Regions from separate parts of the Homo sapiens genome. Here region 1 is linked to region 2. Evidence: fine-mapped expression QTL. A gene starts in region 2. The other region holds a variant in brackets. All regions are shown on one strand. Distances are from middle to middle. Region 1 holds the start of LOC124906330 (a long non-coding RNA gene). Region 2 holds the start of DRC9 (dynein regulatory complex subunit 9).

Region 1 (15,466 bases), 54 kb before region 2:
TTGGAGTGTTCCCTAATGAGGTACGGCTTAGACCACAACACTCAAGTCCCTTCGTATGCCTAGAAAGCCTTTGCAAGAAGGATGAGTACAAATAAACCCAGACTGCAAGGACTACAATGAATACGTAATTCGTCAATGCCCATATACCGATGAACATCCAGAAGCATCAAGACCATTCAGGAAAACATGACCTCACCAAACAAATGAAATAAAGCACCAGGGACTAATCGTGGAGAAACAAAGATATGTGACGTTTTAGACAGAGAATTCAAAATAGCCATTTTGAGGAAACTCAAAGAAATTCAAGATAACACAGAGAAACAATTCAGAAATCTATCAGATAAACTTAACAGAGATTGAAATAATTAAAAAGAAGCAGAAACTCTTGAGTTGAAAAATGCAATTGACATATTGAAGAAGGCATCAGAGTCTCAAGAGCAGAAGTGATCAAGCAGAAGAAGGACTTCGTGAGCCTGAAGACAGGCTATTTGAAAATACACAGGAAAGACAAAAGAAAAAAGGATAAAAGAAATGGAAAGATATTCCATGTTCATGGATTGGAAGAATCAATATTGTTAAAATGTACATTACTACCCAAAGCAATCCACAGATTCAATGCACTCCCTATCAAAATACCAATGACATTCTTCACAGCAATAGAAAAACAATCCTAAAATTTATATGGAACCACAAAAGACCCAGAATAGCCAAAGCTATCCTGAGTAAAAATAAACTGGAAGAATCACATTACCTGATTTGAAATTATACTATAGAGCTATAGTAACCAAAACAGCATGGTACTGGAATAAAAACAGACACATAGACCAATGGAACAGAATAGAGAACCCAGAAGCAAATCAATAAATCTACACTGAATTCATTTTTGACAAAGGTACCAAGAACAAACACTGGGGAAAGGATAGTCCTTTCAATGAATGGTGCTGGGAAAACTGAATATCCATATGCAGAAGAATGAAACTAGACTAGACAGCTATCTCTCACCATTTACAAAAATCAAATCAAAATTGGTTAAAGAGTTAAACTTAAGACCTCAAACTATGAAACTACTAAAAGAAAACACTGGGGAAACTCTCCAGGACATTGGACTGGGCAAAGATTTCTTGAGTAATACCCCACAAGCACGAGCAACCAAAGCAAAAATGAACAAATGGATCATATCAAGTTAAAAAGCTTCTGCACAGGCCAGGTGTGGTGGCTCACACCTGTAATCCCAGCACTATGGGAGGCTGAGGCAGGTGGATCACTTGAGGCCAGGACTTCAAGGCCAGAGGTGAAACCCCACCTCTACTAAAAATACAAAAATTAGCCGGGCATGGCAGTGCACTCCTGTAGTCCCAGCTACTTGGGAGGCTGAGGCACGAGAATCTCTTGAACCCAGGAGGCGGAGGTCGCAGTGAGCCAAGATTGTGCCACTACACTCCAGCTTGGGCGAGAGAGCAAGACTCTGTCTCAATAAATAAATATATAAAATATAAAAGGCTTCTGCATAGCAAACAAAACAATTAAAGTGAAAAGACAACCCAAAGAACTGGAGAAAATATTTGCAAACTACCTATATGACAAGGGTTTAATAAACAGAATATATGAAGAGCTCAAACAAGTCTATAGGAAAAAATCTAATAATGTGAAAAATGGGCCAAAAGGGCCGAGTGTAGTCACTCACACCTATAATCCCAGCACTTTGGGAGGCCTAGGCTGGAGGAATGCTTGAGCTCGGAGTTCAAGGCCCGCCTGGGCAACAATAGTGAGATCTTGTCTCTCTCTCTCTCTATGTGTATAACATATACATACATACATACACACACACATATATATATACATACATATATATATACATACATATATATATACATACATATATATACATACATATATATATATACATACATATATATATACATACATATATATATATATATATATATATTTTTTTTTTTAAAGGGCCAAAGATCTGAATAGGCATTTCTGAAAAGAAGACACACAAACACCAAACAGACATATAGAAAGGTGCTCAGCATCACAGATCATCGGAGAAATGCAAATCAAAACTACGAGACATCATCTCGCCCCAGTTAAAATGGTGTGTATCTAAAAGACAGGCAATAATGAATGCTAGCAAGGCTGTGGAGAAAAAGGAATCCTGGTACGGTATTGGTTGGTGGAAATGTAAATTAGCACAACCACTATGGAGAACAGTTTGGAGGATCTTCAAAAAACTAAAAATAGAGCTACCATATGATCCAGCAATTCCACTGCTAGGTATATACCCAAAAGAAAGGAAATTAGATGTGGAAGAGATGTCTGCACTCCTATGTTTATTGCAGCACTGTTCACAATAGCCAAGATTTGGAAGCAATGTAAGTGTCTACCAACAGACGAACGGATAAAGAAAAGGTGGGGCCGGGCGTGGTGGCTCATGCCTGTAATCCCAGCACTTTGGGAGGCCGAGGCAGATCACCTGAGGTCAGAAGTTTGAGAACAGCCTGGCCAATATGGAGAAACCCCATCTTTACTAAAATACAAAAATTAGCTGGGCGTGGTGGCGCACACCTGTAGTCCCAGCTACTCGGGAGGCTGAGGCAGGAGAATTGCTTGAACCTGGGAGGCAGAGATTGCAGTGAGCCAAGATTGTGGGCAACAGAGCAAGACTCCCTCTCAAAAAGGAGTAAATAAATAAATAAATTTAAAAAGGTGGGACATATAAACAATGGCGTACTATTCGGCCCAGAATGAGATTGTGTCATTTGCAACAATATAGATGGAACTGAGGTCATTATGTTAAGTGAAATAAACCAGGCAGGGGAAGACAAACTTCACATGTTCTTCTTTGTGAGAGCTAAAAATTAAAACAATTGAACTCATGGAGGTCGAGAGTAGAAGGGTGGTTACCAGAAGCTGGGAAGGTAGTGGGGGATGCGGAGGGTGTGGGGATGGTTAATGTGTACAAAAAAGTAGAAAGAATGAATAAGACCCAGCATTTGGTAGCAAAACAGGGCGACCATAGTCAATAATTTAATTGTAAATTTAAAAAGAACCAAACGCGTGTAATGAGATCATTTGTAGCACAAAGGATAAAGGCTCAAGGTGATGGAGACCCCAATTCCCCTGATGTGACTCCCACGTGTCACACGCCTGTATCAAAGTACGTCATGCACTCCATAAGTATATACACCTACTATGTGCCCACAAAAATTAAAAATTAGAAAAAGAAAAGAGTTTAAAATAGAAACAATTTTAAGTCTATAAATCAGTTTTTCAGCAGTCTATTAAAGGAATAACAGGCCGGGTGTGATGGCTCACACCTGTAATCTCAGCACTTCGGGAGGCTGAGGCGGGTGGATCACCTGAGGTCAGGAGTTTGAGACCAGCCTGACCAACATAAGAAACCCTGTCTCCACTAAAAAAAATACAAAATTACCCAGGCATGGTGGCAGGCGCCTGTAATCCCAGCTACTCGGGAGGCTGAGGCAGGAGAATCACTTGAACTCGGGAGGCGGAGGCTGCGGTGAGCTGAGATCGTGCCACTGGGCAACAAGAACAAAATTCCAATCTCAGAAGAAAAAAAAAAGGAATAACACATTATGATCGAGTAAGGTTTATCCCAAGAATTTGAAGATGACTCAACATCAGCAAGTCTATTAATGTATTTCCCTTTATTAACATATTAAAGAAGAGAAAACAATATCATCTCAATTAATGAAAAAAAAATCCATCTCAAAATTGAGTACTCATCCTGATGAGAAGAAAAACTTTTAACAAGAAAAAAAGATACTTCCTGAAGTTGATAAAGCTTGTCTACCAGAAACCTACAGAGTAAATCTCACAGTTGATGATTAAAAAAAAAAAAACTCATTTGTGGCAGTTACCAATTTACTGCCTGTCAGCTCCAAATCCACCTCTTTGCTTTGTGAAAGTGGATGCTTGCTGTGAACGTTTTTCTTGCCAGCTGACAAAATGCTAAGCTGTGTCAGTAGAGGGCGCTGGAGGCACACGACAGGAGGGCGTCTCACTGTCCGGTCACCAGAGTGCGGCTGCCAGCGGTATGTGGGTGGGACACCCGGCCGCACTTGTCCACCCACACGTTTTACTGAGACCGCGCAGGAGGATTCCTGCTGGCCAAACACGTTATGACCTAGTAGGGTTTATCCCAGGAATTTAAAGATGACTCAAATCAGCAACTCTCTCAATGTATTCTACTTTATTAACATATTAAAGGAGAAAAAATAACTCAATGGACAAAAAAACTGTTTTTCTTTTTTTTTTTTCCCTAATTGAGTACGCATCCAGATTAGGAAAACAAAACAAAACAACAAAAAAAACTTTTAGTAAGGTATCTGTCACCTAACCACCATTAATCTCCCATTTTGACTAGTGGCCACGCTGTCACTTTGGGTCCCCGTGCATGAACATCAATTCAGAGCCAATGCTTCAGTCATCTCAGAAGGCCTGGGTAGTTTGCTTTCCCCAGTGCACAGTCACTCTGTAAATAGCACAGGTCTTCTGAGTAGGGCCTAGAGGGAGACTTACAGTAGGTACTTGCAGCAGGGCTGCAGAGTTCATTCTTTGGGGGAAATCCCCCCACACCCTCACACCCCAGTTCATAAAGGGGCCCTGGGGCTGTGAACTGACTCAGTCCTAAGAGCTAGGGGAGAGGCCGTGACTCTCTGCTGTGGTGATTCAAATCAGGTTTCTGGCTACCAGACCCAGAATTTTTTTCTGTTATACTTGAGTAGGCAGCCCAACAATTTTGTTCCTAGAGATACCATCATTCATTAGCCATTGCCAAGAATCCCAGTGGCCAAAGGCATTCTGATTACATCTCTGCCGCCCTTCGTGGTAAATGTGCCCACCTTATCTCTGACAATTAAGTGCTCCCAATTATCCGGAGGCACTTCAGGATCCCATCACCCCACTGATACCAGGAAGCTCATCTCAATGACAACATCCTTAGGGTCACACCTGCCTATGTAGGAAAGCAAGCACAGAGCTTTTAGAGAGGCAGATGCTCCCCTCACTATTCTATTTCTCAATGTCTTAGTAAAGAAGTGTCTTCTGGGCCTTCTCATGGTTAGGAATGGGTGCTTGGTGGTAGACGTGTAAGTCACACATGATAAATCCACTGTGACATTCCTGTCTCCCTACATCTTTGGATTCTCTCCCCCAAATCATAGCAGGGAAGCTCTGACATCTCCACCTCATCAAATGTAGGCAAATGTTGAGTCACCTCCTGCTGCTCAAGCTAAACCATGAAATCCAGACTCTCTGGTAAGTGCATCTATATCAATGAATTAAACAAATGGAGTGTGATAGCCTACCCTGTTGGATCTAACACTCTTAGAATCAACTCGACATGTTTCCCAGGTTTCTTCCAATATTTATTAGCAAAATCTTACCATTCTTTTGGTGTGTAAGTGATTTCCTTCTGAGTTAGTTATCTGAGTTTTATGTCCCACTGTAACATGCTAAGATTTGACCCTAGTTATGGATCCAGTGACAACAGGGGTGACTGTACCAGGTCTGAAGAGTGAGCCGTTTCCAAGGCATCCTCCCAGATGAAGTTATCACAGGGGTGACTGTACCAGGTCTGAAGAGCAACCCTTTCCAAGGCATCCTCCCAGATGAAGTTATCACAGGGGTGACTGTACCAGGTCTGAAGAGCAACCCTTTCCAAGGCACCCTCCCAGATGAAGTTATCACAGGGGTGACTGTACCACGTCTGAAGAGTGACCCCTTTCCCAGGCATCCTCCCAGATGAAGTTATCACAGGGGTGACTGTACCAGGTCTGAAGAGCAACCCTTTCCCAGGCATCCTCCCAGATGAAGTTATCACAGGGGTGGTGACTGTACCAGGTGTGAAGAGCGAGCAACCCTTTCCAAGGCATCCTCCCAGATGAAGTTATCACAGGGGTGACTGTACCAGGTCTGAACAGTGAGCCCTTTCCAAGGCATCCTCCCAGATGAAGTTATCACAGGGGTGACTGTACCAGGTCTGAAGAGCGATCCCTTTCCAAGGCACCCTCCCAGATGAAGTTATCACAGGGGTGAATGTACCAGGTCTGAAGAGTGACCCCTTTCCCAGGCATCCTCCCAGATGAAGTTATCACAGGGGTGACTGTACCAGGTCTGAAGAGCAACCCTTTCCAAGGCATCCTCCCAGATGAAGTTATCACAGGGGTGACTGTACCACGTCTGAAGAGTGACCCCTTTCCCAGGCATCCTCCCAGATGAAGTTATCACAGGGGTGACTGTACCAGGTCTGAAGAGCAACCCTTTCCAAGGCACCCTCCCAGATGAAGTTATCACAGGGGTGACTGTACCACGTCTGAAGAGTGACCCCTTTCCCAGGCATCCTCCCAGATGAAGTTATCACAGGGGTGACTGTACCAGGTCTGAAGAGCAAGCAACCCTTTCCAAGGCACCCTCCCAGATGAAGTTATCACAGGGGTGGTGACTGTACCAGGTCTGAAGAGCAACCCTTTCCAAGGCACCCTCCCAGATGAAGTTATCACAGGGGTGGTGACTGTACCAGGTCTGAAGAGCGAGCAACCCTTTCCCAGGCATCCTCCCAGATGAAGTCATCACAGGGGTGGTGACTGTACCAGGTCTGAAGAGTGACCCCTTTCCCAGGCATCCTCCCAGATGAAGTTATCACAGGGGTGACTGTACCAGGTCTGAAGAGCAAGCAACCCTTTC[C/G]AAGGCACCCTCCCAGATGAAGTTATCACAGGGGTGACTGTACCAGGTCTGAAGAGCGAGCAACCCTTTCCAAGGCATCCTCCCAGATGAAGTTATCACAGGATCTTCAGGCAAAGGAAGTGCGGTGTCCTCAGACACAGGAGGGCAGGGTACTTCCGCTGCCAAGGGAGCTTTAAAGTGATTTGCCAGTTTCATCCGAATCTGAGCAGGTGTTCTCATTCCAAGTTTCAGGGTCCTGTTCTTTCCCTGTGAGTGCTCTAACTTGCATATCAGTAACTTGGCATGACTATGACAAACTCATGTGTAATCCTGACTAAAACACCAGAACAGTGGTGTTGTATTAACAACCAATAATAGAAAAAGGATTCCCCATTGTCACTACTACAACCAACAAGTACACTGGACTTTCTAGCTAGACAACAAGCCATGAAATGAAAACAGACATATAAATAATAAAAAGGATAATATAAAATTGTTATTTGCATGCAGTAAGATTTTCCACCTAGGAAATCCAAATGAATCCACTGAAAAACCATTAGAGGGTTTAACAAATCCACAGCAATACACAAAAGAAATACCTTTCCACATACCATACACTTAGAGACAGAACCAAGAAGGTTTCGCAATGTTATCACAGAAAAACCTGGAAACAACCTAAATCTACTGACAGAATGGTTCACTAAATTTCAGTATATTCTGAGTGTGAGATATATTCTATCAATCAGCTGTACTGCTACAGAAAACATTAAAAACAAAGTAAATGTAAGAAGAAAACAACAGGCTCTGGAACACTATATATAGCATGATCCAATTTACTTAAGAAACAAATACTAGGCCGGGTGCAGTGGCTCATGCCTGTAATCCCAGCACTTTGGGAGGCTGAGGCCAGCAGATCACTTGAGGGCAGGAGTTCAAGACCAGCCTGACCAACATGGTGAAACCCCATCTCTACCAAAAATACAAAAATTAGCCAGGTGTGGTGGCAGGTGCATGTAATCCCAGCTACTCGGGAGGCTGGCAGGAGAATCACTTGAACCTGGAGGCAGAGGTTGCAGTGAGCCGAGATCGCGCCATTGCACTCCAGCCTGGGCAACAGAGCAAGACTCCTCTCAAAAACAAAACAAAACAAAAAACCACCACTGAGAATAGGTATGTTTTTAGGTATAAGTATGTATATGAAAAGAAATACATGTGGAAGAAACTTCCCTTCAGAAAGGGGAGTAATTTAAGAGGGCTTTCACTTTCTTTAACCTATGTATTTCTGTCTGAAATTGTAGCTGGACGTGGTGGTGCACACCTGTAGTCCCAGCTACTCAGGAGGCTGAGGTGGGAGGATCACTTGGGCCCAGGAGTTTGAGGCTGCAGTGAGCTATGGTGGCACCACTGCACTGAAGCCTGGGAAACAGAGAGAGACCCTGTCCCTAAAAAATAAAAAATAAAAAAATATATACTTATGTATTGCTTGTGTTATTGGGCTGAAGATCTGGGAAACTCTGGCGTCATCCCTTCGTGATCCATTTATCTACCAACTCACTGATAAATATCCAACACCTGCCAGGTATCTCACACTTGAAACAGGTAACATGATACATAATTCTTAAAGTGCAGGGCTACAGAACCCTAATTCTAATAGCCTACCAGGTATTTTTTTCAGTAAAGACCTGCAAGAGAGCATCTACAAATTCTCCTCTTTAACCACACATTTGGAATCCTTGACTGAAAACTCATTAGCTTTTTCCAAAGGCAAGCTGTATTATAACTAAGCTGGAAAATTTTCTCTTTATTCATCCAATAGGGTTATTTTGAAAGACTCCAGCTGGGGCTGGGCACGGTGGCTCACGCCTGTAATCCCAGCACTTTGGGAGGCCGAGGCAGGTGGATTACCTGAGGTCAGGAGTTCTAGACCAGCCTGGTCAACACAGTGAAACCCCATCTCTACTAAAAATACAAAAATTAGCTGGACGTGCGCCTGTAATCCCAGCTACTCAGGAGGCTGAGGCAGGCGAATCGCTTGAGCCCAGGAGGCCGAGGTTGCAGTGAGCCAAGATCACGCCACTGCACTCCAGCCTGGGCAGTAAAGCAAGACTGCATCTCAAAAACAAAACAAAAAAAAAAAAAAAAAGAAAGAAAGACTCCAGGTAGACTTAGACATAATTCTAACCTTAGATATATTATAGACCCAGCTTGGTTATTAGTATTGAAAATGCTCTTAAAACCACCGTGTCATATATATTTCACACAAGAAGAAATAAATTGAGTAAACATGTGGAAAAATGTTATGTTCACCTGTTAATAAGCAAAAATAAAAAATAAAACAACTCATTAAATTAGCAGACTTTGAAAAATATTGAAAATGGCTACTAATATTGAAGAGACCTTGAAATTACTGCCTGCAACACTGCTAACGGCAGCACAGATTCGAGAGTATTAGCAATGTTTATTAAAAGTCACAAAATACTAGTCTCTGAAACAAAAATCTCATGACTGAGATTGGCTTTTAGTAAATAGTTGCCATGAAGAAAAACAGTTCTTTGGGCAAAGCTTTAATGAGTGCATTATTTATAATAACAAACTTTAGAAACAACCTAAATATAAAAAAAAAGTGTAACAAATAAACTGTGGCACAACCATTCAATGGAACGTTAAACACAATTTTCAATTATTTTATAAAGAAACTGTAATAACATAAAAAATGAAAAGCAATGAGTAATTTTAAAAATCTTCACTCAACTGGGAATGTTATTTTTATAGTGTAAAAGATTAGTAAATTTTTTTTTTTTTGAGACAGATTCTTGCTCTGTTGCCCAGGCTGGAGTGAGTGGCATGATCTCGGCTCACTGTAACCTCTGCCTCCTGGGTTCAAGCGATTCTATTGCCTCAGCCTTCTGAGTAGCTGGGATTACAGGCGCCCGCCACCATGCCTGGCTAATTTTTGTATTTTTAGTAGAGACGGGGTTTCTCCATGTTGGCCAGGCTGGTCTCGAACTCCTGACCTCAGGTGATCCGCTGGCCTCTGCCTCCCAAAGTGCTGGGATTACAGGCGTGAGCCACCATGTCCGGCCTTTATTTATTTTTCTTTTTTATTTATTGGCCACTATACTATTGGGAAAAATTTTTAAATATAGTCATAATTTAAAAATAATTAATTTAAAAATTATGTCTTTTTTTGGTTTTTGTTTTTGAGACGGGGTCTCGCTCTGTTGCCTAGGCTGGAGTACGGTGGCGTGATCTCAGCTCACTGCATCCTCTGCCTCCCAGGTTCAAGCAATTCTCCCACCTCAGCCTCCTGAATAGCTGGGATTACAGGCGCACCACCATGCCCGGCTAATTTTTGTATTTTTTAATAGAAACAGGGTTTCACCATATTGGTCAGGCTGGTCCCAAACTCCTGAACTCAGGTGATCCACCCTCCCCGGCCTCCCAAAGTGCTGGGATGACAGGCGTGAGCCACTGTGCCCAGCCCATAAATTTGTAGGTCATAATTTGACTTAATAAATTTTAAGTCATAAATTAAGTCATAATTTGAAAATTATGAGTATACAGCAATATAGAAATCGAAAAATTTCTTATGTAAGCTCAATGATAAAAGCAGAAAACAAAATTTTACCTGCACTCTCTCAAATTACAGCTATATAAGATATCTATTCAGATGCATAACCCTGAAAGAAAACATGAGCTAAAGTTCATTAGGCTGAAAGAATGATGGTTGGTTTTCCTTCAAAATATTCTTTTTGTTTCCTCAGTATAAGCAGAGTACAAAAAAAAAGTCAAAGCATAGAAAAGCTGTGGGGACCCACCTGCTGCTCCTTTCTAAGGAACATTTCAATCTCTGTATGAGTCCGGGCCTCTTCTTCGGTTTTCATCCTGAGTTTCTGTAAGAACAATCAGATACCAGTACGTCTTCCCCGCAGGGCTGGGAATCAGAAGTTCTCAAGATGAGAGCAGCAGCTCGGTCGGTAGCTGAGGCTCCCTTTACCAGCTGGGATCCCGGGCTTTCAGTTCCCTGCAACTCCTGTTCACCAACACTGCAGAGCCACGTGGCGCGGCACTGTGTGGACTGCGTGTGTCCCTAACGAGACGAGCACAATCCCGTGAGCTGAACAGAGGTGCCCACTGAAGGACAGAAACGGCGCTCCAAGGGCACAAGGCTGTGGGGCTTAAAAAGGGGGATTCCGGAGTGCCAGGAAGAGTGTTGACGTGGCCTTGAGCCACGTCAGTCTCAGAGCGAGGAGTCCTCCCACACACAGATTCCACGGCCCAAGGACGTTTGTTCCTGCTTCCCTCTTCCCATCTGCCTGCTGCTCTTTCTTGTTTTCTTTTCTTTTTTGTGAGAAGGGAGTCTCCCTAGTTGAAGTCTGAAGTTGCCCAGGCTGGCTTCAAACTCAAGGATCCTCCTGCCTCACTGCCTCACCTCCGATTAGCTGGGACTAGTGCCTGGCTTTGCGTGTGTGCGTGCGTGCGTGCGTGCGTGTGTGCGTGCGTGCGTGTGTGCCATTTAGCATTCCCCTCAAAGAAGATCTACCACTTCTTTCTTCCTCCTGGCATTTTTCACCGTGACTTCTCATCCTATAAACTCAGGTTTGAACGAAGTTCAGCGCTCTCGATGCTGTATTTCTTACTGGAGGAGTGAAAGGTACTGGTTAGATGAAAGAAACAGCAGCAAAATCCTGCCATAACTAAGCACCTCGTTTTGCCCTCTCCCTATAATTAGTCAGAAAAATGGTGATTGGTTTGCCAAAATAAGAAGTGACCAAGGAGAGAAAGTGCAGCCAATTTTCAAAGTCATTATGAGGCGGGAGATGGAGGCTACAGCCCACTGGAATCTCTGCTTGCGAACACGCATATCCTCATTTAGGCTTTTATTTTCAACCTCAAGTGGAGGGGCTGTTGCCGATAGAGATGGAGGGAAATCTTTGTCTCCCTCCTTTGTTAGCTGAGAGGGGATCAGGAGTGACAGCTCAATTGCCATCTCCTGGGTTCTTGGCTAATGTCCCAGGGATTACCTCAATCTCTTCCACCAAGAGTTCCTCTGTTCTGTTACACTTTTTCTGGGTCTGGGCAATCTGCAGCTCGGTATTGGTTTTCATGTAGCGATTCTCCAAGTTGGATTTTGCCTTCATCTCTTGCAGTTGGTCCTTGAGGTTAGCAATATACTCATTCTGACTCTGTAGTGGAAAGACCAGGTTTCTAAATTGAAAATACATTCTACCTCCATTCAGTTCAGTCAGCGGCTTACGGTTCCCTTTTATGCGTATAAATCAATAAGGAACTGGAACTATTTTTCCGCTGTCACACAATGGGAAATTTAGCCAACAATCATGAAGTGTATAGATGAAAGTGAGTAACACAGCATTTCTAAGAATCAGGGCGCATCAGGGCTGTGAGATTAGTTCCCAGGCACATTATTGCTGTACTCCGTATGTCCCACACAGCTTTCTCATTTTGGTAGGAAGAACACTGGTCAAAATGATCAAAAGAACTGACTTCCCACCCAGGCCTCCAGCTGTGTGAACTTGGCCAAGTCAAATCTCCAACTTTTTACTTTCTATAAAACAAACACACAAACATACAAACACCCAACCTGCCTGAAGTATCTCAGAGAGTGATTATTAGGTTTCCTTGAGAACACGTGTGAAAACGCTTTCTTTTTGCAGGTCACCAAGTGCTTGGCAATTGTGAGGACTCAATAGTCATTAAGAAAAATATTTATTCAGCACCAGGCACTGAGCTAGGAAAATTGTGGAGATCTAAACAGACATATTCCCTTCCCTCATAGAGCTTACAGTCTAATAGAAGAGAGGTGGTTAAAAAGAGACAAACACATGTGTAAACTTCCAAAAATTGTGCAAAATGATAGAAAAGGAAGGCTCGAGAGGCTGTGGGAGGAAATAACAAGGGAGGAGTACATTAGACTCTGGAAGGTCTGAGAAGGACTCTCTCGGGAAAGCGATGGCTCATTCGATACCTGAAGGACAGGTAAGCCCACCACATGAAAAATAGGCTTGGCCAGGCACGGGGGCTCACGCCTGTAATCCCAGCACTTTGGGAGGCTGAGGCATGGCGACCAGCTGAGGTCAGCAGTTTGAGACCAGCCTGGCCAACATGGTGAAACCCCGTCTCTACTAAAAATACGAAAAATAGCTGGGAGTGGTGGCGGGCGCCTGTAATCCCAGCTACTCGGGAGGCTGAGGCAGAAGAATCACTTGAACCCGGGAGGTGGAGGTTGAAGTGAGCTGAGATCATGCCACTGCAGTCCAGCCTGGGTGATAGAGCGAGATTCTGTCTCAAAAAAAAAAAAAAAAAAGAAAAGAAAAAGAAAAAAAGGAAAGAAAAAGAAAAGAAAAATAGGGTTAAGGGAACTCTAAAAAAAAAAAAAAGAATAAGTATATGCCCAAATCCTGAAGCAATCAAGACCTGGATACATTCCAGGAACTGAAAGAAAGCTCCGGAGGCTCTAGCCTAGTGAGGGTTGAGGGGAGGACAGGATGAGGTTGGAGGTCGGTAAGGGCACCACACAGGACCCCGGAGACCCAACTGAGAAATTCAGATTTTATTCCAACTGTCATGGGAATCCTTGGAAAGCTTTTAGTCAGGGAGGTAACATTTGTTTGAAAAGAACTGTTTGGGCGGAATCAGTGTGTGAGTAAGTCCACAGGGAGGGGACCTGACGGCACAGCAAACAAGCACACGACTAGCAACAAAAGTGCTTCAACCCGAGACCTGCTCCTCTAGATACCAACCGCCTTTCTTCTCTTTTTACATTTTTTTTGAGATGGAGGCTCGCTCTTGTTGCCCAGGCTGGAGTGTAGTGGCATGATCTTGGCTTACTGCAAGCTCCACCTCCCAGGTTCAAGTGATCCTCCTGCCTCAGCCTTCTGAGTAGCTGGGATTACAGGTGCTCACCACCACACCCAGCTAATTTTGTATTTTTAGTAGAGATGGGGTTTCTCTACATTGGTCAGGATGGTCTTGATCTCCCGACCTCAGGTGATCCACCTGCCTCGGTCTCCCAAAGTGCTGGGATTACAGGCGTGAGCCACCACGCCTGGCCTCCAATTGCCTTTCGTCTTAACCATGTAAGTAGGGTAGAATTAGTTCTTTTGTATTAAAAAAATTTTTTTGTTTAGAGACAGGATCTCCCTCTGTCACTCAGGCTGGAGTGTAGTGGCTCGATCACAGCTCACTATAACCTCCAATTCCTGGGCTCAAGCCATCTTCCCAAGTAGCTAGTACTACAGGTGCATGTCACCATGCCTGGCTAACTTTTTAATATTTTTAGAGATGGGGGTCTCACTCTGTTGCCCAGGCTGGTCTCAAACTCTTGGCTTCAAGGGATCCTCCTGCCTTGGTCTCTCAAAGTGCTGGGATCACAGACATGAGCCACTGCGCCCGGCTTTGTTGTTGTTGTTGTTGTTGTTGTTTTTGAGACGGTCTTGTTCTGTCACTCAGGCTGAAGTGCAGTGGCATGATCACGGCTCACTGTAACTTTGACCTCCCAGGCTCAAGAAATCCTCCTGCCTCAGCCTACAGAGTAGTTGGGACTACAGGTGCATGACATCACACTCAGCTAATTATTATTATTATTGTAGAAACAGAGTCTCACTGTGTTGCCCAGGCTGGCCTCGAAACCCTGGGCTCAAATGATCCTCCCACCTCAGCCTCCCAACATGCTAGGATTACAGGCAGGAGCCACTGCTGCAGCCAGCCTCTTTTCTTTCTTGAGATAGGGTCCACCGTGTCCCCCAGGCTGTAGTGCAGTGTCACCAGCATAGCTCACTGTAGTCTTGAACTCCTAGACTCAAGGAATCCCCTCTCTCCAGCCTCCCAAGTACCTAGGGAATTAATTCTAAGTAACCATTGGAAGAAAAAACAAAGTGGTAATTGGACAAATCCTCCGTTAAGGAAAGCAAGCATAGGCAGCGGTGTCCAATCTTTTGGCTTCCCTGGGCCGCACTGGAAGAAGAATTGTGTTGGGCCACACACAAAATACACCAATGATGAACTAAAAAAAAAAAAAAATCACACAAAAAAATCTCTCATAATGTTTTAAGAAAGTTTACGAATTTGTGTTGGGCCCCAGTCAAAGCCATCCTGGGCCGCATGTGGCCTGCGGGCTACAGGTTGGACAAGCTTGACTTAAAGTATCATTAGGCCCCAACCTGGTGGGGTGGCTCACGCCTGTAATTCCAATGCTTTGGGAAACCAAGGCAGGAGGCTCGCTTGAACCCAGGAGTTCAAGAGCAGCCTGGGCAACACAGTGAAAACCTGTCTCTACAAAAAAATTTAAAAATTAGCTGGGCCTGGTGGCATGCGCCTGTAGTCCCAGCTACTAGGGAGGCTGAAGTGGTAGACTCCCTTGAGCCCCGGAGGCCGAGGCTGCAGTGAGCTATGCTCATGCCATTGCACTTTAGCCTGGGCAACAGAGCAAGACCCTGTCTCAAAAAGGTCCCTAAGATGAATCAGAACGGAATTCTTCAAGTTATTTTGTCTACTAGCTTCTTGATATAACTCTGCAGAATCATTCTAATTGTATGACAGTTATTCCAACTAGATCGGAATCATTCCTAAGAGACGGAGCATCTCTGGCACAGAATATGCTATAGGCCCTTTGAAAATATGTCTTAATATTTCATATTCTCTTACAAGTTGTAGGATTGCAGGCAAATTACTGGACCTCACTAAGCCTATTTTCTCATCTGTAAAATCCTGCCCAGGCTGGAGTGCCTGGCACAACTTATATGCTCAATAAATG
Region 2 (14,997 bases):
TTTTGTTGCTTGGGCTGGAGTGCAGTGGCGTGATTACAGCTTACTGCAACCTCAACCTCAACCTCCTCGGCTCAGGCAAACCTCCTGCCTCAGCCTCCTAAATAGCTGGGGCCACAGGCATGTGCAGCCACAACCAGTTAACTTTTTAGTTATTTGTGGAGATGGGCCTCACTATGTTGCCCAGGTAGTACTACATTTCTAACTGATGCAGTAACAGTCTTTTTGTCTGCCCCCTGAGGGTTACTGATCTCTACAGCACAGGTAGTTTTTTAAATTAACATCTTTAAATTGCACTGAAAATGTCAACAAGAAACTGGGAGTTTGCCACCTAAGCCCTTTTGCAGTTTTGCAGCGTGTATGGGTTCTCTTGTCTATGCTGCAAAAGAATTAACATGCTGGAAATGTATTAGGATAAGAGGGTGAAAGAAAGGATTGGGTAGGAAAAGCACACTGGCTGTTGTGTTATTTGGTCTTCCATCTCCTGGAGACAGGACTGAGAAGGAAAGTTTTTGTAGTAAGGGAAAAGAGTGGGAATACTGTCCAGCTTTCCCACTTCCCCTTCCTCCAGTAACATCCTGTTACAAATCTGCTAACCTACAAAGAGGGTAGTGAGATATACTGACCCAAGAGAAAGCAAGACGCCCTCCCCCAGAGGTCCCTCTGTCACACTGGCAGTTCTAAGAAAGGTTTGGTCAGTCCAATGGTGGTATGCAAGCCAAAGCTGCCATTGTTGGAGTCCCGTGCTTCGTGGACATGGGCTTGTGTTAGTACTCTGCCAGGCTCATTTATTAGGATTGTGGTGGTTTTTTTTTTTTTTTTTTTGAGACAGTCTTGCTCTGTCGTCTAGGCTGGAGTGCAGTGGCGCAATCTTGGCTCACTGCACGCTCCGCCTCCCGGGTTCACGCCATTCTGTCTCAGCCTCCCAGGATTGTGGTTTTAAGGCAAACAAAGTGCACTGATGCTGTATTCACCAGAAGTGAGCAGTACTTCAAGGCCGGAAGTTGGAAGTTGTATATTAGAATGCTAATGAAATTGAACTTGGGAATTACGCAGTCAGCGCGAGGAAGTGCTGATCTTGGACACCCACTCCAAAAGGCCAACATAAGCTAAAAGTACCTACTGTGTTCATTGTGCCAGTTAAGTAGATGTGATCAGTAGTACTCGGGGTATTCAGGGATAGAGGCATGTAGGTATACTGGCTGCGTAACATAAAACCGTAAAGTGTAGAGGAAGAAATAGGGCGGCATCTCAAAGAGGAAATGGCAGGAAGATTTTAGGAACACAAGTGGCTGACTGGAAAGTCCAGAAAACTAAAATGCCACATGAGAGGTCTCCTGTACTGAACTGAGGATCTTAGGCTTAAGATTGTTCTTGAGTGTAATACAACGTCACTGAAGAACTTGATTCACAGGAAATTTTAAAATTTACTCATTTGAGACAGGGTTTCTGTTGCCCAGCCTGTAGTGCAGTGGTGTGATCATAGCTCACTGCACCTTTGAACTTCTAGGCTCAGACAATCCCCTGCCCACAACCTCCAGAGAATCTGGTGCATGCCAGGCACGTCCAGCCAATTAAAATGTTTTTTCGGGGTCCCAGGCTGGTCTCGATTCCTGGCCTCAAGTGATCCCCCTGCCTTGTTCTCCTAAAGTACTGGGATTACAGATATGAGCCACCAGCTCAGATTATTTCAAATCCCAATGGCATCCCAGCATAAACAAGGGAAAATTAGGTGGGCTTTTCAGTCTCAAATGGAGAATTCTAACATGTTTCTGGCTTTGGGGGCTGGATGGATAATGGTGCATTTACAAAGTTGGGGAATCAGGAGATGGTTTTGTGGGAGGAGCTAAAGTTGAATTTGAGGAAGCTGTAAGATGTTAACCTGTGGACATATCCATGAAGACAGATGGGTATTTCAGGTCTGGGTTAGGCATATGGAGAAGTGGATGGTATTCTGAGTGGAACAGACACACGGTAAGTGGTAGGCATCTGAGCAAAGCGGGGGAAAACAAACGGTTGAGACTTTAACTCGAGTAACTTACATGTGCAATGGCAAATGAGACTCAAAAGCAAATACATGCTCTTCCTTACTGAGATGATGCAGCATTTGTAAATAATAAATGTATGTTTTTATGTTTTTCTCCTCCCATATGGAAATTAAGTCAAAAGTACTCAAGTCACCGTTGCCAAAGGAGGAGTCCTGTGGTTTACAGGAAAGGGCTTGCGTGGCTGGTAACTTGTCCACTACACCATTGAAACAGCTTTGCCTCCTGGCTGGGCGCGGTGGCTCACGCCTGTAATCCCAACACTTTGGGAGGCGGAGGCGGGCGGATCACCTGAGGTCATGAGGTTGAGACCAGCCTGGCCAACGTGGTGAAACTACGTCTCTACTAAAAACATAAAAATTGGCCGGGCGTGGTGGCGGGTGCCTGTAATCCCGGCTACTCGGGAGGCTGAGGCAGGGGAATAGCTTGATCCCGGGAGGCAGAGGTTGCATTGAGCCGAGATTGTGTCACTGCACTCCAGCCTGGGCGACGAGTGAAACTCCGTCTCAAAAAAAAAAGAAACAGCCTTTCCTCAGCATAACACTATTGTTACAGCCAGGAGCTTAGGATGACTGGTTCCATTCTTTATTCACAATAGCAATTTATTTGTGGTATTGTAGTGGAAAGGGCACGTTTCCTAAGTTACAAATGTGGTTTGGAATCCCACCTTCCACTAGTTGTGGGATGATACACACATTTAGTGAGTATTTACTTGTAAAATGGTAATACTTAAAACACCACCCCATCCTCGTAGCTGAATCTCCACCCATAGTTTGTAACTTGAGGTTTTCCTTCTTTCCTACTCCTTCATTTCCCAGTATAGTAGCTTACCTATTCAATTCCCGTTGAATGACTTCCAGCTCAGTGAGTTCGTAATTTTACTTCTTAGTGTCATGAGCCACTGGGATTTGTCCCAATTTCCCATTTTGTATAGTTCCTCACGGCTCAGTTTCGAAGGCAAGGTTTCCTTAATGGCCAGGATCCCCCTTATCTCAGGTGCAGTGGCAATTCTTGGCTGGAAACTAAAAGATGGAGTTGAGTAAAACAGTAAACGGTGTATCATAGATTTTTATAGGAAATGGCGTTAGTTAAGTAATGGGCCTAAAGTTGGTGACTCAGGATAAGTAAATGAAAGTATTCCACTCACCTTTTCATACAGAGGACTACACTGAAAGATTTTGCAGAGGGTTGTATGTACGTCTAAACACCTGGCACCTAGTAGGTGCATGTCACTTTGGTAAATGAAAGAACTGAAAAACTGCCTCAAGACACCCACATACGGCCAACGCCCGCTAGCCTTTCTTCCTCCCACAGCCCCACTCACGTGGGCCTCCAAACAGCATTTATTGGCCGGCTTCGCGCCACGAGACGCGATGGACGTGATCGCCGCCCTCATCTTCTGCGGCGAACTTCTAGCGGGTGACGCTGTCCAATCGGAAAGCGCCTTTCCGCCGGCTGGGCCCTCCGTCTACCCCCAGCGGCGAGGGGCGGGGCCGGCGCGGGCGCAGAGGCGTCACGCACTCCATGGTAACGACGCTCGGCCCGAAGATGGCGGCCGAATGGGGCGGAGGAGTGGGTTACTCGGGCTCAGGCCCGGGCCGGAGCCGGTGGCGCTGGAGCGGGTCTGTGTGGGTCCGAAGCGTTTTACTCCTGTTGGGCGGGCTCCGGGCCAGCGCCACATCTACTCCCGTCTCCTTGGGCAGTTCCCCTCCCTGCCGGCACCACGTCCCCTCTGACACTGAGGTAGGGCGACATGGGCGGGAGCGGGCCCTCTCAGGGTAAAGTCACCCAGAAGGAGCAGGCGTAGGAGATAGTGACTGGGAGAAGGTGTCCTGGATGAGAAAGCGAAATTGGGGCAGAGCCTGACTCTTACAGGCCTGGGACCCGCTCTCAGCTCCCTACACCCTGCAAGTTGGCTGTTAGGCGCTCAGAACAGTATCACTTCTGTGCGGAGGGTTGTGCTTAGCAGTAGCCCTCGAGGAGTGGTTTTCAAACTTGAGCGTGCATCACAGTCACCCGACGCACATGGTACAACACGGATTGCCGCCCTCAGTCCCCCACTTAGTGACTCAGTAGGTCTGGGATGAGTCCCCAGAGTTGACAGTTTACGTTCCCAGCTGGTTGGTGAGATATGCTTGTCCGGGGACCACTTTAGGAACCGCTGACCTGAAGTTTCGGGAAGACATTGAACGGAGAGCCAGATAGAGGCGTTGGTGGGACGTTGGGGGCTCACTGGAGACAAAATTCAGGTTTCTTTTCACGTTATGTCGTCACTTTGTTTGCTTTACCCGGTTCCTCTGCTCTGGAAGTGCCTGCCCGCCTCCCATCCCATTTTTCTCTCTGCTTAAATTCTTTGTCTCATTTCAAATTCCCTAACCTCAAGGCAGCCTGCTGAAACCACCACAGCGCAATATTCTTTTCATTAAAAAGTACATCGTGTCTGTACTCCCTCCTGGCATTTAACCAAGTACTGCTATGGGATAATGGCTTATTTTTTAGGCGTATCTTGCCTTTGCAGTTAGATTATAAGGTTCCGTGGGATAAGGTTTGTGTTTCATACTTTGATTCCTTCACAGTATTTAGGTCAGAGGTGGGTCCACGATAATCCATATTCTTTGAGAAAGGGAGAGTACCTGGGGCAGGGCTGCATGCTGATACACCTACACATGTTCAATTCAGCCCAGAAATCTAAAGACACTCATTTTTATGGTAATTTCCCAAAATGTTACATGCATACTCTTCATAACCAAGTGAGCCAAAATATTAACTTCGGAGTTTATAGCTTTTTTGCAGCTTTTATCATGCTGCATTTTCGCTGAATTCTTTAAAAAAAATTTCCCACAAAACCCTGCACTTCTCTCTTTTAATTTGGATTAAAATAAGAGAAAGAGTCCTGGTCCCTAATACGTTTCGCTAGTTCCTCATAGAGTATATAAATACCCTGTCGTCCTCACTATTCTCCTTGTTTTAACCTGGACACGGAGTATAGCCAGGAGCTACAGTGTTCACTGTAGTTACGCTAATGACTATACCTCTGTTCAATGCTACAGGAAATTACATAACTTTTTTGGTTTTGGTGGTGTTGGGGAGCTACAAAACAGTTTTACTTTTTAACTGGTTCTCAACTAAAGCCTGTAAGTTTTGTTTTTACCTTTTATTACGCCGGTACAAACAACATCAGAATAATTTAATGAACCCGCATGGACCCATCACCTAGCTTTAACACCTAGCTTTAAGGTTCCGCCATTCTTGTTTCATATACTTTCAGCCATTCCGCAGCCCCCTACTTGAGTTACTGTTCTTTTGAAGTTTTTTGGTAAAATTTACATATATTGAAATGCCACAAATGTATCCATGCACATCCACATAAAGCATACAACCCATCACAACATAGAACGTTCCCACATCTCCAGACGTTCCCTCCTGTCCTGTGCCAGTCTCCTGCCCACCCCAGGCAACTAGTTTTCTAATTGTTTTTTTTTTAAATACTAGATTAGTTTGGCCAATTCTAGAGCTTCGTGTATTGAATGGAATTATATGGTATGTACTCCTCTGTATTTGGCATCTGCTCAGCATTATGTCTGTGAGATTCGTGTTGTATGTGATAGTAATTTATTCCTTTGAATTGCTGAGTATTCCATTGAATACTTATATCACAATTTGTTTTTCCGTTATCTTGTTCAAAGATGGGTATTTTGGTTTCTTCCAGATTTTAGCTATTATAAATAAAGCTGCTGTCAATATTCTTGTACAGTAATTTTTGTGGATATATGTTTTCATTGTTCTTGGATAAATACCTAGGGGTGAAATTACTGGGTCAAGGGTAGGTGAATGTTTATAAAAAATACTAACCCTTTCTCCAAAATACTCTACCATTTTACACCCCCATCAACAAAATATTAGTTATGGTTGCTGCATATCCTCACCAACAGATGTCCTTTCTAAGAAATCTTTAAATACCCCCTAGGTCATAAAAATATTCTCCTGTGTTCTAGAAGCCTTCACTTTTAGGATTATGATTCATCTGAAATTAATTTTTATATATGATGTGAGATAGGGGATCAATATCCTTTTTTTTTTTTTTTGCCCCATATGGGTATTCAGTTGCCTGGATTATGTACCTCTGTAATAAATATTGAAATCAGACAGTATTGTTATTGTAAGCATTCCTGCTTTGTTCTTCCTTTTCAAAATGATTTTGGCTATTTTAAGGCTTTTATATTTCCATATAAATTTATTTATTTTTTGGCAGGGGGAGGCTCAAAGACAGATCCATATAAATTTTAGAGTCAGCTTCTCAGTTTCTTCAAAAAAGCCTGATGGGTTTATGATTGGGATTGCATTTACTCTATAGATGATTTGGAGATAATTGACATCTAACAGTATCAAGTCTTTCAATCCATGAACATAATGTATGTTTCTCCATTTATTGAGGTGATGCATAATTTTTCTCAGCAAAAATGTATAGATCTTGCATTTTTTCTTCTGTTTTCTTTTCTCTCTCTTTTTTTTTTTTGTTTTGTTTTGAGACAGTCTTGCTCTGTCACTCAGGCTGGAGTGCAGTGGCAGAATCATAGCTCACAGCAGGCTTGAACTCCTGGGCTCAAATGATCCTTCTGCCTTAATCTCCCAAGTAGCTGGGACTCCCAAGTATGCGCCACTACACTTGGCTAATTTTTTATTTTTTGTTGAGACAGAGTCCAGGTGGGTTTTGAACTCCTGGCCTTAGGCGATCCTCCTGCCTCGACCTCCCAAAGTGCCAGGATTACAGGCATGAGCCGCCGTGCCCAGCCAGATCTTGCATGTTTTTTGTTAAATGTTTTCCTAAGTCTTTTATTTTTTGATGCCATTGTCAGTGGAATTATGGTTAAAGTTTTCCAGTTGTTTGCTGCTAGTATGTAAAAATACACTGCTAGTAGGTAGAAATAATTTTTGTATATTAACCTTGTCTTCTGAGACCTAGCTAAACTTATTTATTCTACTAGGGTTTCCTCCCTTACAATTTTTGATGTTAGCAATGTATTAACTATAAATAGGAACAATTTTTGTTGTTGTAGTTTTGTATCATTTATGTATTTTTTCCCCCTTATTGCTCTGGTGAGGACAGGCAGTTCCAGGCTGAGCAAAAGTGAGATAGCACGCCTCCTTGCCATTTGTTCCTGATCTTAGGACCAGTCTCTGACCATTAAGTATGATGTTAACTTTACATTTTTTTGTAGTTCCCTTTATCAGATTGAGAAAGCTCCCTTTGGTTTCTGGTTTCCCGAGGGTTTTTATCCTGAATGGGGACAAATTTTGTCAAATGCTTTTTGTTTTTTCTGGTAATTATTGAGATAATCATATAGTTTCTCACTTTATGAACTGTTATGTGGTAGATTACATTGCATTTTCCAATAGTAAATCAACGTTGCTTTTTTGGGATAAACCTTACTTGGTCATGTTGGCTTTGGTAATTTTCTTTAATGTTTGTTTCTATTTCATTGTTTTCTGTTCTTTGTTATTTCCTTTTTCTACTTATTGTGGATTTAGTTTGCTCATATTGTTAGGCGGAAACTTAGATGACTGTTTTTTAACCTTTTTTTCCTTCTAATGTAAACATTCAAAGATATAAATTTCTAAGTACAACTTTAGCTGCTCTTCACAAATTTTGACACTTTGCATTTTAATTATCATTTAGGTTAAAATTTTTTTTTTGTTTTTTGTTTTTTGTTTTTTTTTTTTGAGACAGAGTCTTGCTCTGTTGCCCAGGCTGGAGTGCAGTGGCGCAATCTCAGCAGAGCAACCTCGGCTTCCTGGGTTCAAGCTATTACCCTGCCTCAGCCTCCTGAGTAGTTGGGACTACAGGTGCACGCCACCACACCCAGCTAATTTTTGTATTTTTAGTGGAGATGGGGTTTCACCATGTTGGCCAGGATGGTTTTGATCTCTTGACCTTGTAATCTGCCTGCCCTGGCCTCCCAAAGTGCTGGGATTACAGGCGTGAGCCACCACGCCCGGCCTAAAAAAGTTTTTTAAGAGACAGGGTCTTGGTCGGGTGCAGTGGCTCATGCCTGTAATCCCAGCACTTTGGGAGGCCGAGGTGGGTGGATCACCTTAGGTCAGGAGTTTGAGACCACCCTGGCCAACATGGCGAGACCTGTCTCTACTAAAAATACAAAAATTAACCAGGTATGGTGGCGGGCACTTTTAATCCCAGCTACTCTGGAGGCTGAGGCAGGAGAATTGCTTGAATTCAGGAGGTGGAGTTTGTAGTGAGCTGAGATTGTGCCACTGCATTCCAGCCTGGGCGACAAGAGCGAAACTCTGTCTCAAAAAAAAAAAAAAAAAGAAAGAAAGAGACAAGGTGTCCCTCTGTCACCCAGGCTGGAGTGCAGTGATATGATCATAGCTCACTGCCACCTCGAACTCCTGTGTTCAAGCAGTCTCCCCGCCTCAACCTTATGAGGAGCTAGGACTTCAGCCACATGCCACCACACCTGGCACATTTTTTATTTTTATTTTTGTAGAGACAGAGTCTTGCTGTGTTGCCCAGATTGGTCTTGAACTCCCAGTTTCAAGCAATCCTCCTGCTTCAGCCTCCCAAAGTGCTGGGATTACAAGCGTGAGCCACTGCACCTGGCTGAGATTATTTTATTTATGGTTTAGAATATGATCTATCCTGTTTAATTTTTCACGTGTACTTGTGAAGAATATATATTCTATAGTTTTTTTTTATTTTATTGTTTTAGAGATGGGATCTCAGTATGTTGCCCGGGCTGGTCTTGAGCTCCTGGACTCAAGCAATCCTCCTGCCTTGGCCTCCCAAAGTGCTGGGATTATAGACATGAGTCACTGTACCTGGCCTATTCTGTAGTTATTGAATATAGATTTCTATACATGTTAATAAGCTGAGGTGATTGATACTTTACTTCAGATTTTCTCTATTAAAAACTATTGGCCAAGTACAGTCACTCATGCCTATAAGTCTAGCTCTTTTGGAGGCCGGGATGGCAAATCGCTTGAGCTCAGGAGTTCAAGACCAGCCTGGGCAACTTAGTGAAACCCCGTGTCTACAAAAAATACAAAAATTAGTTGGGTGTGGTGTTGTACACCTGTAGTCCCACCTACTTGGTGGGGCTGAGGTGGGGGAATCACTTGAGCCCAGGAGGTGAAGGCTGCAGTGAGCCAGGTTGGCACCACTGTGTTCTAGCCTAATAAAGACTGTATTAATACAGGAGAAAATAGGTGTATTTAGCTTGCTTGTGGTTCAAGCTTACATGTGTATCTTTTCAGTTGCCTACATTTACCTGTGTGTATGTGTGTGTGCTTGTGCATTTTAGGCATTACAACATATATCTTTTGTTTATTGCATGTTTTTATTTTTGAGACAGAGTCTCTCTCCGTTGCCCAGGCTGGAGTGCAGTGACACAATCTTGGCTCACTGCAACCTCTGCCTCCTGGGTTCAAGCAATTCTCCTGCCTCAGCCTCCAGAGTAGCTGGGATTACAGGCACCTGCCATCATGCCCGGCTAATTTTTGTATTTTTAGTAGAGACAAGTTTCGCCATGTTAGCCAGGCTAGTCTCAAACTCCTGACCTCAAGTGATCCACCCGCCTCAGCCTCCCAAAGTGTTGGGATTACAGGCATGAGCCACTGCACCTGGCCTATTACATCTTTAATGTTAATATTATCACACTGTCTGGGGCATGATGTTGAATAAGAGTGGTGAGAGTAGACATCCTTGTCTTGTTTCTGATCTTAGAGGGAAAACATTGTCTTCCACTGTTAAAAATATTAATTGTGGAGTTTTTGGGTAGGTATGCTTTATAAAATTAAGAAAATTCCCTTCTATACCTAGTTTTCTAAGAGTTTTTTTTTTTTTTAATCATGGATGGATGTTGAATTTTGTTAACTGTCTTTCCTGCACCAGTTGATACAATCATGTGGCTTTTCTTCTTTACTCTGTTGATATTATGAGTTACATTGATTGATTTTTTTTGAATGTCAAATCAGCCTTGCATTCTTGAGATGAACCTCACTTGGTGATGATTTATTACCCTTTTTACATTTTGCTGGGTTTGAGTTGCTCATATTTTGTTGATGATTTTACATCTATGTATTTTTATTTTTTTAGAGACAGGGTGTTACTCTGTCATCCAGGCTGGAGTATAGTGGCACAATCATAGCTCACTATACAGCCTTAAATGACTTGGCTTAAGCAGTCCTCCTGCCTCAGCCTCCCAGTTAGCTAGGATTACAGGTGAGAGCCACCACACCTGGTTCATTTATTTTCATGTTTAGTGGATATGGGCTCTTGCTGTGTTTCCCAGTCTCGTCTGGAGCCACTGGGCCCAAGGAGTCTTCCTACCTTGGCCTCCCAAAGCTCTGGGATTGTAAGTGTGAGCCACTGCACATTTACATCTATATTAATAAGGGATATTGGTCTGTAGTTTTTTTAATTTTATTTTTTAAATTTTATATTTATGGTTTTTTACCAACTACCTGCAAGGATACTGGTCTGTAGTTTTCTTTTCCTCTCTAATAATAACTTCAGGTTTATCGGGGGAACCCGCCCCCAATATTTCAAAGTAGGTTCTTTCTATTTTCCCTAAGTGTCAGCCAGCTGAGAAATACAGAGAAAGAGTACAAAGAGTGGAATTTTACAGCTGGGCCTCCAGGGATGACATCACCTATCAGTAGGACCGTGATGCCCGCCTGAGCCGCAAAAGCAGCAGGTTTTTATTAAGGACTTTAAAAGGGGAGGGGGTGTACGAAGAGGGAGTAGGTCACAAAGATCACATGCTTCAAACAGCAAAAAGGAGAACAAAGATCACATGCTTCTGAGGCCAGTAAAGACCACAAGGCAAAGGGCAAAGCAAAGATCACAAGGCCAAGGGCGAAATCAAAAACTCCTGATAAGGGTCTGTGTTCAGCAGTGCACGTATTGTCTTGATAAACATCTTAAACAACAGAAAACAGGGTTTGAGAGCAGAGAACCGGTCTGACCTCAAATTCACCAGGGTGGGGTTTTTTCCCCACCCTAATAACCCTGAGGGTACTGCAGGAGACCAGGGCATATTTCAGTCCTTATCTCAACCACATAAGACAGACACTTCCAGAGTGGCCATTTATAGACCTCCCCCAAGGAATGCATTCCTTTCCCAGGGTCTTAAATATTCATTGCTGGGAAAAGAATTTAGCGATATCTTCCCTACTTGCACATCCATTTATAGACTCTCTGCAACAAGAAAAATATGGCTGTATTCTGCCCAACTCCTTAGGCAGTCACACCTTATGGTTGTCTTCCCTTGTTCCCTAAAATTGCTGTTATTCTGTTCTTTTTCAAGGTGCACTGATTTCATATTGTTCAAACACACATGTTTTACAATCAATTTATACAGTTAGATACAATTATCACAGTGGTCCTGAGGTGATGTACATCCTCAGCTTAGGAAGATAACAAGATTAAGAGATTAAAGTAAGACAGGCGTAAGAAGTTATAAGAGTACACTGGGCGTGGTGGCTTATGCCTGTAATCCCAGCAATTTGGGAGGCCGAGGCGGGCGGATCACGAGGTCAGGAGATCGAAACCATCCTGGCTAACACGGTGAAACCCCGTCTGTACTAAAAATAAAAAAAAAAAATTAGCTGGGTGTGGTGGCAGGCACCTGTAGTCCCAGCTACTTGGGAGGCTGAGGCAGGAGAATGGTGTGAGCTTGCAGTGAGCTGAGATTGCACCACTGTACTCCAGCCTGGGTAACAGAGCAAGACTCTGTCTCAAAAAAAAAAAGAAAAGAAATTGTAAGAGTATTATTTGGGAACTGATAAATGTCCATGAAATCTTCACAATTTATGTTCAGAGATTGCAGTAAAGACAGGCATACGAAATTATAAAAGTATTAATTTTGGGAACTGTATGTGTCCATATTAAAATGAAATCTTCACAATTTATGTTCCTCTGCCGCGCCTCCAGCCGGTCCCTCCGTTCAGGGTCCCTGACTTCCTGCAACACAGGTTTGGTATCAGGATAATGCTGGTCTCATAGCATGAGTTGGGACATGTCCCATTTTCTTCTATATTCAGGAAGAGTCTCTGTAGAATCAATGTTGTTTCTTCCTTAAATGTTTAGTAGAATTCACTAATTAAGCCATCTCAGTCTGGAATTTTCTTTTTTGAAAGTCATAAACTATGAACTCATAAACTTTGATATTGGACTATTCAGGTTATTTATTTCTTAACAGTGTTTTATTAAGTTATGTCTCTCAAAGAATTTCACTTCATTTAAGTTGTCAAATTTATGGACATGAAGTTTTTCATAACATTCCTTTATGATCATCTCTAAATTGCTGGAAAGTCTGTAGTGATATCTTCTGTGTAGTTTCTGACATTGGTAGTTTGTATTCTCTCTGTCTTTTTTTTTTTTGAGATAGGGTCTCACTCTGTTGCCTAGTTTGAAGTGCAATAGCACGATCACTGCTCACTGCAGCCTTGAACTCCTGAGCTCAAGCAATCCTCCCACCTTAGCCTCCCAAAGTGCTGGGATTATAGGTATGAGCCACCATGCCAGCCTTAGTGCTTTCTTTGAGTTTAATATATATATATTTTTTTTAGTATCTTAAGGTGGAACCTTAGATCATGAATTTGAGATCTTTTTTCTAAAATAGGCATTTAAAGCTATCAGTTTCCTCTAAATACTCCTTTAGCTGTATCCCACAAATATTAACTTGTAATTTTATTTTCATTTACTTCTATTTTCTAATTTCCCTTGTAATTTTCTCTACTAACTAAGGGTTATTTAGAAGTTTGTTGTTTGATTTTTTCAAAAGTATTTGGGGATTTTCCCAGATATTGTTCTGAAATTGCATTCTAGTCGAATTTTGTTATTGATAGAGAGCATCCTTTTTACCAGTTCTTTTATGTCTTAAAGTTTGTTTTATGGCCCAAAATATGATCTAGCTAGGTGAATGTCCCACACGCACTGAAGCAGAATGTACAACACAAAATATTGAGTGTTTGCTCCAGTGACTACAATATATGTAGTGTACTTATGGTATCTATTTAAAATAGTCATGTTAAATATGGGACATTTTCAACAGCATAATTTCATTCATTTTGCTGTTGTTGTAATATAATATTGTAAATATATTAATATATGACTTCTTTATATATTTTAAACCTCACAATTAGGCCAGCACAGTGGCTCATGCTTGTAATCCCAGCACTTTGGGAGGCCGAGGCTGGCGGATCACCTGAGGTCAGGAATTCAAGACCAGCCTGGCCAACGTGGTGAAACCCTGTCTCTACTAAAATTACAAAAGTACAAAAATTAGCTGGGCATGGTGGCAGGTGTCTGTAATCCCTGCTACTCAGGAGGCTGAGGCAGGAGAATTGCTTGAACCCAGGAGGCGGAGGTTGCAGTGAGCCAAGATTGTACCACTGCACTCCAGCCTGGGCAATAGAGAGAGACTGTCTCAAAAAAACCCAAAATAAATAAATAAAATAAATAAAAAAAATAAACTTCACAATTAAAAATTTTACAATTTTTGCTTTAAATATTTATTTGTCTCCAAAGAAATTAACAGAAGAAAAGAAGTGTGTATAATTGTGTTGAGGATTCCCAAGACCACTCCAGGTTTGGTGATTGCTAGGTGGCCTCGCTAGATTCAGCTTGTCGTCATACTCACAGCTGAGATTTATTACAGTGAAGGCATACAAAGTAAAATCAGCAAAGGGAAAAGGATCATGGGACAAAGACTAGAGGAAATTAGGCAAAAACTTCCAAGAGTCCTCTCCTAGTAGAGTCACTTAGGACCTGCTTAATTCCTTCAGCAGTGAGTTGTGACAGCGTGCACAAAGTGTGGTCTACCAGGGAAGATTACCTGATTCTTAGAGTCCAGGGTTTTTATTGGAGGCTGGTCACGTAGACAAAATTTCAGCCACTGAAATTTCAGACTCCAGAAGCAAGCAAATGTTCAACATAAACCATATTGTTTCTGCAAATAGTTTAGACACAATGAGCCATCCTTATAACCTAGTGAAGTTTTAAATTACACTTCTAGATGCCAGCAAAAGGTCAACCTTGCAAGCAGGACTTCCTACAGAGAGCAGCAATCTCTGACCTGCTGTGTTGACTCTTCTGCACAATAGTCTTTCATATCTATTCACGTATTTACCATTTCCAATAGCTTTTATTTCTTCCTACAGAAACAGGTTACCCTTTTGTGTTATTTCCATTCCCACGAATAACTTCTTTTAGCATTTCCTGTAGTGTAGGTCTGCTGGTGATCAGTTTTCTCAGATGTATGTGAAATGTCTTTATTTCCTCTTCATTTTTGAAGGGTACTTTCATTGGATATAGACTTCTGTGTTGAATTTCTTTATTTTAGCCCTTTCCTGTTTATTTCATTGTCTTCTGTTCTTTATTGTTCTTCACAGAAAGTCAATGCCATTCGTACTTCTCTTCCCTTCCTATGTATAATGTTGTATTAGTTCTCACACTGCTATAAAGATACTACCTGAGACTGGGTAATTTATAAAGGAAAGTGGTTTACAGTTCCACATGGCTGGGGAGGCCTCAGGAAACTTACAATCATGGTGGAAGATGAAGGAGAAGCAAGGACCTTCTTTACATGGTGGCAGGAGAGAGAAGTACAAGCAGGGGAAATGCCAGAGGCTTGCTTATAAAACCATCAGATCTTGTGAGAACTCACTATCATGAGAACAGCATGGGGAAACACCCCCATGATCCAGTCACCTCCTTCCCTTGACATGTGGGATTACAATTTAAGATGCAATTTGGCTGGGGATGCAGAGCCAAACCATATAAAATGTGTTGTTTTTCTCTCATTGCTTTCAATATTTTATCTTTATTTTTAGATGTCACAAGTTTGCCTATGATGTACCTGGTTGTTGTTTGTTTGTTTTTGGGGACAAAGTCTCACTCTGTTGCCCAGGCTGGAGTGCAGTGGCACGATCT

The links.
Region 1: its variant is fine-mapped to the expression of DRC9 in adrenal gland (GTEx, PIP above 0.99). The same link has a PIP of 0.9 or more in pituitary, putamen and unexposed skin.

The regions. Positions count from the first base shown.
Region 1 is chr3:197,902,164-197,917,629 of GRCh38, forward strand. DRC9 (dynein regulatory complex subunit 9) reads right to left here. Exons shown (of 12, transcript NM_032263.5): 8 at 11,718-11,879; 9 at 10,512-10,586. LOC124906330 (a long non-coding RNA gene) reads left to right here and starts at 3,521. Exons shown (of 2, transcript XR_007096246.1): 1 at 3,521-6,275; 2 at 6,409-8,168. RefSeq lists a silencer at 3,986-4,035 and enhancers at 10,468-11,667, 11,051-11,682. The variant C/G (reference allele first, on the strand shown) is at 6,715.
Region 2 is chr3:197,956,656-197,971,652 of GRCh38, forward strand. It overlaps DRC9 (dynein regulatory complex subunit 9), which reads right to left and starts at 3,336. Exons shown (of 12, transcript NM_032263.5): 1 at 3,190-3,336; 2 at 2,874-3,064. LMLN (leishmanolysin like peptidase) reads left to right here and starts at 3,562. Exons shown (of 17, transcript NM_001136049.3): 1 at 3,562-3,785. The coding sequence starts at 3,591. RefSeq lists an enhancer at 2,339-2,839 and silencers at 3,391-3,620, 10,950-11,150.